Linked DNA regions of Homo sapiens. The protein of the gene in region 2 purifies or fractionates together with the protein of the main gene of each other region. This does not show direct contact. Each region holds a gene or a part of one and is shown on either strand. Other genes may lie near its edges.

Region 1 (2,978 bases), on a different chromosome or scaffold from region 2:
ATTTCTTCAGGCCTTATTCCTATAGATGATATTAACCTTTACTAAGGGTTCAAATAATAAGTAAATAAGATAGGTTTCTTACTCCAGAGAGTGAGGTGGCATTTTTCATCCTGGTTTAATCCATGGTGCTTTTCTCTACAGAAAGCTCTTGTTACTAGTTAACAGCTAGGACCTGAGCTTGCCACATCGGTTTCTAATTTACCAGAGACCCCCTGCCATCCTGAGTCCCTGCTGCTTCATCAGGCTTACTGTCAGGCAGCCATTGCCTGAGGGGAGCAGCCAAGCTGCTGAGTTGGGGTGCAGGCTTTCCCAGGGTGCCTGGCCATGCCCCTGAGGCAGCATTCTTACTGCTACCAACTGGAGTCAGAACTGAGGCAGATGACATTTGAGATGAGCCTGGAGAACTGAATAGCATTTATTTCAATTCTTTATGCCAGAGCGAGGTGGGAGAAGGGTGTTGCCTTCAGAGGGAACAAATTGTACAAAGCTGCAGAGCGCTCTCCAAAGCTGCTTTGCAAAAACACCAGCTCACCAGGGCGACTTTGAAGCTTTTCACGTGGGCAGGATTGGGCAGTTGCTAATGCTGGCACCACACGCTTGCATTTTGATGATCTCCTTCAAAGTCCCATTTATCCTCTGCCAGCCCATTGGTTAGAGGCGATTGCTGTGTTCTAGTGTTTGAGTTCACATGACTTCCAGAGTCAGCCCTTGAATCCTGACGGGAAAGCATCTCTGAGAGGGACCCAGGTCCTACCCGTCAGGTGAGCGCCCAGCAACCTGAGCATTGTGGGCGCGTGTCTGCCTTTGAGCCACGGCCGGTCAGGGAGGGGACGCAGGAGAGCTCTGTGTCCCCTGCCTGCCCACCCACTAAGTTCACAAAGCACTCACTGTCCCATCAGGTTGTGACAACCCCATGTGTTCAAGAAGCCATTTACTTTGAGAGACCTCTGTGGGCTGTGGATGAGGCTTTTGCTAAGTCCTTTTTACTCGTCAAACAGATGGGTTTGCTGGGCTGTTACACCCTGGGCACCAGGGTTCTAGCCACGAAAGAGACACTCTCTCTTCCCTCGCCATGTCTTACAAAATTGTGGGTCCAGACAAGTCAGCAGGCAGGGGCTGGACTGTGACAAGAGCCCTGGCAAAGCGTGGACGGCATTGTTTCTGGGAGCACTGCAGAGGGAGGTTTCTCCAGAGGGGGCAGCAGAGCAGAGGTCGGAAGGTGTGGAGTCAGCCAGGCCCAGGACTGCGCAAAAGTGCTCCTAGCGGCGAACCACAACCAGCAGTCGGGAGGCAGTGAGGACGTGGGGGTGCATCAGTGTGGCTGGGGAGCGTCGGGACCCTCTGCAGTATCCAGAGATGCCTCAGGGACGCCACCCTCCCCAGGAAGGCTGGATGCTGTGGTGCCAGCAGGCCCCTTTCTCTTCGCTCTGACCCTCCAGGAGTTGAACCTCCTCTTTCTAGTTCATAATTCATACTGCACATTTTCAGTGCGCAGTACATGTGGGTGGGCTTTTAGTTGTATTTTCACCTCCCATTGTGAAAGTGATGATTGCCTGTAGTAGGGAATTTGAAAAACACAGAAGACTAAACAGAAGGACAAAATCTTTCCTGGGGGGCCTGATTTTGATCACCCAAAGCAGGGCACTACGTGTTTGCTGCGTTTCTTCCAGTGAGAATGGGCCTTAGCAGGTGTTTCTCAGGCTTGAGTATCATTCACGCTCCCTTACTGGAGGCTTCACCTTTCTGCAGCCTAGCCCGGCTTTCTCATGCTCACAGCGGCAGCCGGCTGGTTTCCCTCTGCTCTCAAGGACCCAGCACGTGCCTCCCAGCTTCATCTCTCCCCGGCCCCGGCAGCGAGGGCAGCATCTTGGGTGCCCGTGCACTCGTGGGTGCAGACACGGCACTGGCGTGTCCTGAGTGCTGAGTTGTGGCTGTGCGGTGGTGTCCGTGGGACTCAGAACAGCCCTGCATGCATTTTCTTAGGATTGTCTTTTAAATGAAAGCTAGAAAGCACTCTAGCCAACACTCTCCCCTTGGACTACATGTACGAGCCCTGGTTGGCTGAAACTGAAAGTCTGTTACGGGAAAAGTCTTTTATTTCATTGGATCATTGACGATTATCTCTGTATTTTGGACTACTATATAATTCATTCTGAAGTGATTTCTTCAGCCCTTACCCTTGTAGGTGTAACTACGTGGTTTTGCTTATTTCCCTAGATTTTGAAGATCTTTTTGATGATGATGACATCCAGTGAGATGCCCTCTGGCTGCAGGCGGGGCCAAGCCCTTGGTACAGAGCCGCAGTGTGAGCCTGCGCAGGACAGTTTCAGGTGGTTTTAAAGAACACGTGGAAATCCCTTGAATTTAGGACCTGGTTAACCAGAAAGATAAGACTGTTCTTAACGACCTAGATGATTCTGTTCATCTCTGAACGGGATCAGGTTTTGTCCTCACTCCAATTAAAAGAAAGCAATGTCACATGTGGAGTGATCTCTTTCTTGCACTTATGAGTGAATGTTGCAGTCCCTAAACGTCTCTGTGTGTTTGTGTGTGCATGCATGTGCGTGCATCTGTCAGCACGCTGAGAGAACCACATTTGTCTGGTAGCAGATACCTTGTGTTAAGGTGCTGTATGTGCTGGAGCAGGAGGCAGCGCGGCCCGTGCACAGCTGGGCCTGCTGACAGCACTTGGAGGACCTTGCCACGGGGCCGCCCCTCTGCTGTGTGGGCAGGTTCCCACTGTGTGTGTCTGTCAGCACAGTCGTCCTTATGCTGTCCTCTGGCCTCCACGTCAGGGCAGCTGCCCCTAGGCTTAAGAACTAGGACGACAGGATGCGACTGCAGGAGACGCCTTCTACGTGGAAATGCACATTGGTCCATTTCAAAGGAGAGTGTAACGCCCATGTGGGAAGAGGGGTCTTGTTTCCTGTAGGCCCAGCTCAGTAGTCGATACTGGCTGTAAAGCAGTGAAGTTGCTG
Region 2 (3,500 bases):
TTTGGTTTTTATAAATATAAATGTTTTATTTTTAAATGTAGGAAGATATTGATGCAGAATCTTCGTTTTCATTAAATATGAACTTTAGCAGTAAAAGAACAAAATTTAAAATTACTACATCAATGCAGAAAGACACACCACAAGTAAGTGCTTTTAATGTCAAGTTTTTTTTGAGGGGGAAACATTTAAGCATTGGACTTTACAAGTGTTTACATTGAGATTGTGCAAAACTTTGCACAGCAAAATTAATAATGGGATATGTCTTTTCTGGTTTGTTGTTGGCATTTATTAACCTTACAGTCAAACAGAAATCTCTACTTGTATTTTAGTTTTTTCTAAGGAAAAGGGTATGGTTTTGTTGTATTTGCTCTTAAACCATTAGAATGTGTAACTATGCATTCTCTCCGAAAATTCCCACATTGAGAAGTAATAAAATTTCATATTTTTCATTTGTAAAATAAGGGAAAGTTCTCCAGTTCATTTTTTTTTTTTTTTTTGAGACGGAGTCTTGCTCTCTCGCCCAGGCTGGAGTGCAGTGGTGTGATCTCGGCTCACTGCAAGCTCTGCCTCCCGGGTTCACGCCATTCTCCTGCCTCAGCCTCCTGAGTAGCTGGGACTACAGGCGCCCACCACTATGCCTGGCTAATTTTGTTTTTTGTACTTTTAGTATAGACGGGGTTTCACTGTGTTAGCCAGGGTGGTCTCGATCTCCTGACATCGTGATCCGCCCGCCTCAGCCTGCCAAAGTGCTGGGATTACAGGTGTGAACCACCGCGCCTGGCCTACAGCTCATTTCTTTCAAAGAAAATTTGTCAGTAGAAAATGCTTCTTAAACTTTCATATGCAAATGAGCCACCTGGGCATCTTGTTCAAATGCAGATTGTGATCTAGTGGGTGTGGAGTGAGGTACTGACAGGCCAGTGTGAGGAGGGGACTTCTGCTCTTCATTATTTTAACTCAGCAGTGATTGTTGCTTTGGTCTGGGATAGACTGTTTCTATCACTTATGCTTCCTGATTGCCTCCGGTGTGCAGTCCTTGGGCTGATGCAGGATGTGAAGATAATATAAGATGTTAGACCCTCTCCAGAAACTTAATTCCCGATGGGGGGAGACAAATATTAACTGCCATTTACTTTGAAACCTAAAATGGTCAAGATTCCATTTTCCTCCAGGCTAATAAATAATAATTTGCAATATATAGATTGTATTTTGTCTTTGAAACGCTGTGAGGAGATCCTCTTAATGTGGCATGGTCTGCTTCTATGCCTTGCTTCTGTGTTTCTTGAGCTCCGTGGAGATAGGCCCCCTCTCCTGGCTTCTCTGCTTGAGCCACATAAAATGCCACTTCACAGCTCTTCCCTTTGAAGCCTGATCCAGTATGCATTTGGAGCTAATTACTGCAGTTGACACAACTCCATCTAAAAGCGTCATGAAAGATTCTGTAATCACTGATAAGAAAATGATCTTGCAAATTATTGCTGTGTCCTCCTTTATTGCCTCTTTACCTTAACAGTACAGTTTACAATAATGTAAATTTTTTTCTAATCTTTCAACTTTAACCCTAGAAATTGTAGATGTTTTAGCAGTGGTTATGTGATATTGGCACAACATAACTATATAATTTGCTCAATATTGTGGTGCATACCTGTAATCCCAGCTGCTCAGGAGTCTGAGGCATGAGAATCACATGAACCCAGGAGATGGAGGTTGCGGTGAGCTGAGAGCGAGTCACTGAACTCCAGCCAGGACGACAGAGTGAAACCCTGTCTCAAAAAAAAAAAAAAAAAAGTATTTGCACTCACTGATAAAATGAATTGAAAACAAGTTCAGTGACTTAATGTCTTGTTGGGTCTTTTTTCTTTTCTTCTGTAAAACAGGAAATGGAGCAGACTAGAAGTGCAGTTGATGAGGACCGGAAAATGTATCTCCAAGCTGCTATAGTTCGTATCATGAAAGCACGAAAAGTGCTTCGGCACAATGCCCTTATTCAAGAGGTAAAAGGAGGGCAGTCCTCAGGGCTTCTTAGGGTAGAGGGCATTGTCATTGTACAGATTCAGTCTCTTTCTTCTTAAAGAGGATACAGAAATAACCTGATCCTCAGATAGCATAAAGAAATGTTTCATACTTAATCAGAATCGTACTCACTCACAATTTCAGTATTAAATTCAGATTTGCAGGCTGGGCACAGTGGCTCATGCCTGTAATCCTTTTTGTTGTTGTTGTTGAGACAGAGTCTTGCTCTGTCGCCCAGGCTGGAGTACAGTGGCGTGATCTTGGCTCACTGCAACCTCTGCCTCCCAGGTTCAAGTGAGTCTCCTGCCTCAGCCTCCCGAGTAGTTGGGAATACAGGCGTGCACCACCATACTTGGCTAATTTTTGTATTTTTCGTAGAGACAGGGTTTCACCATGTTGGCCAGGCTGGTCTCGAACTCCTGACCTCAGGTGATCCACCTGCCTCGGCCTCCAAAAGTGCTGGGGTTACAGGTGTGAGCCACCATGCCCAGTGGACACCTGTAATCTGAATGTCTTGTTAGGCCAAGACAGGAGGATCACTTGAGTCCAGGAGTTTCAGACCAGCCTGGGCAACACAGGGAGACCCCATCTCACCTAAAAAAAAAAAAAAAAAAAAATTAAAAAATTAAAAAATTAGCCAGTTGTGGCGGCACACTTGTAGTACCAACTACTTGGGAGGCTGAGGCGGGAGGATTGCTTGAGCCCAGGGATTGAGCCTGTGTGACACAGTGAGATGCTATCTCAAATGATAATAATAAATTCATATTTGCTTTGGCTTTATTTTAGAGGTCTAAAACTTGCTGATTCATTGAGTCTTCTGTCCAGTTATTGAAGGAAATTGACCCATCAGATATTCATTCATTCCATAACTATCTGAGCCTACCATGTGATAGACAGCTGGGCTGGTCCCTGGGATATAGCACAGAGCAGCTGAAGATATGGCAGGCTTTTTTGGAGTTCACAGTTTAATGGGGGAAGAAATACACTATTGAAATGATATGCAAATAAATGTAAAATTACATTAGCATGCACTGAAGGAAACGTATACAGTACTATGAGAATGTATTTAAATATCCTGGCCTAGGGGCTGCTGGGGAAAACTTTCTTGAGAAAGTGTTTGAACTAAGAGCTGAGAGTTGAGTTAAATAGAAGCTTGGGGTTGTGTGTGAGTACTTAGGTTAATTAGTTTATTGTTTCACTTAATTATGTATCATTATTAGATTTTGCTGTATCCATTTTCCACATTGTAGTTCCTATTTTCATACTTAATTTGGCCCATTTGTTGAAACCTCAGTACATTTGAGGCACTTTAAACTGATTGGTTAAAAGTCATTACTTAATAGCTGAAGAACTGGCAGTAGTTTGACTTCCACATCTCTTCCACAGGTGATTAGCCAGTCAAGAGCTAGGTTTAATCCCAGTATCAGCATGATTAAGAAGTGTATTGAAGTTCTGATAGACAAACAATACATAGAACGCAGCCAGGC

What was found. Proteins that work in one complex are often made in the same cells at the same time.
Region 1: the proteins of CUL2 (region 2) and COPS9 purify together in Homo sapiens (affinity purification with mass spectrometry; 2 studies listed by BioGRID and IntAct, with this or other methods). This does not show direct contact.

Annotation. Positions count from the first base shown.
Region 1 is NC_000002.12:240,130,328-240,133,305, reverse strand, and holds the end of COPS9 (COP9 signalosome complex subunit 9), read left to right. Parts: intron 1-2,217; coding exon 2,218-2,255; 3' UTR 2,256-2,478; downstream 2,479-2,978.
Region 2 is NC_000010.11:35,010,342-35,013,841, reverse strand, and holds part of CUL2 (cullin-2), read left to right. Parts: intron 1-41; coding exon 42-143; intron 144-1,877; coding exon 1,878-1,994; intron 1,995-3,399; coding exon 3,400-3,500.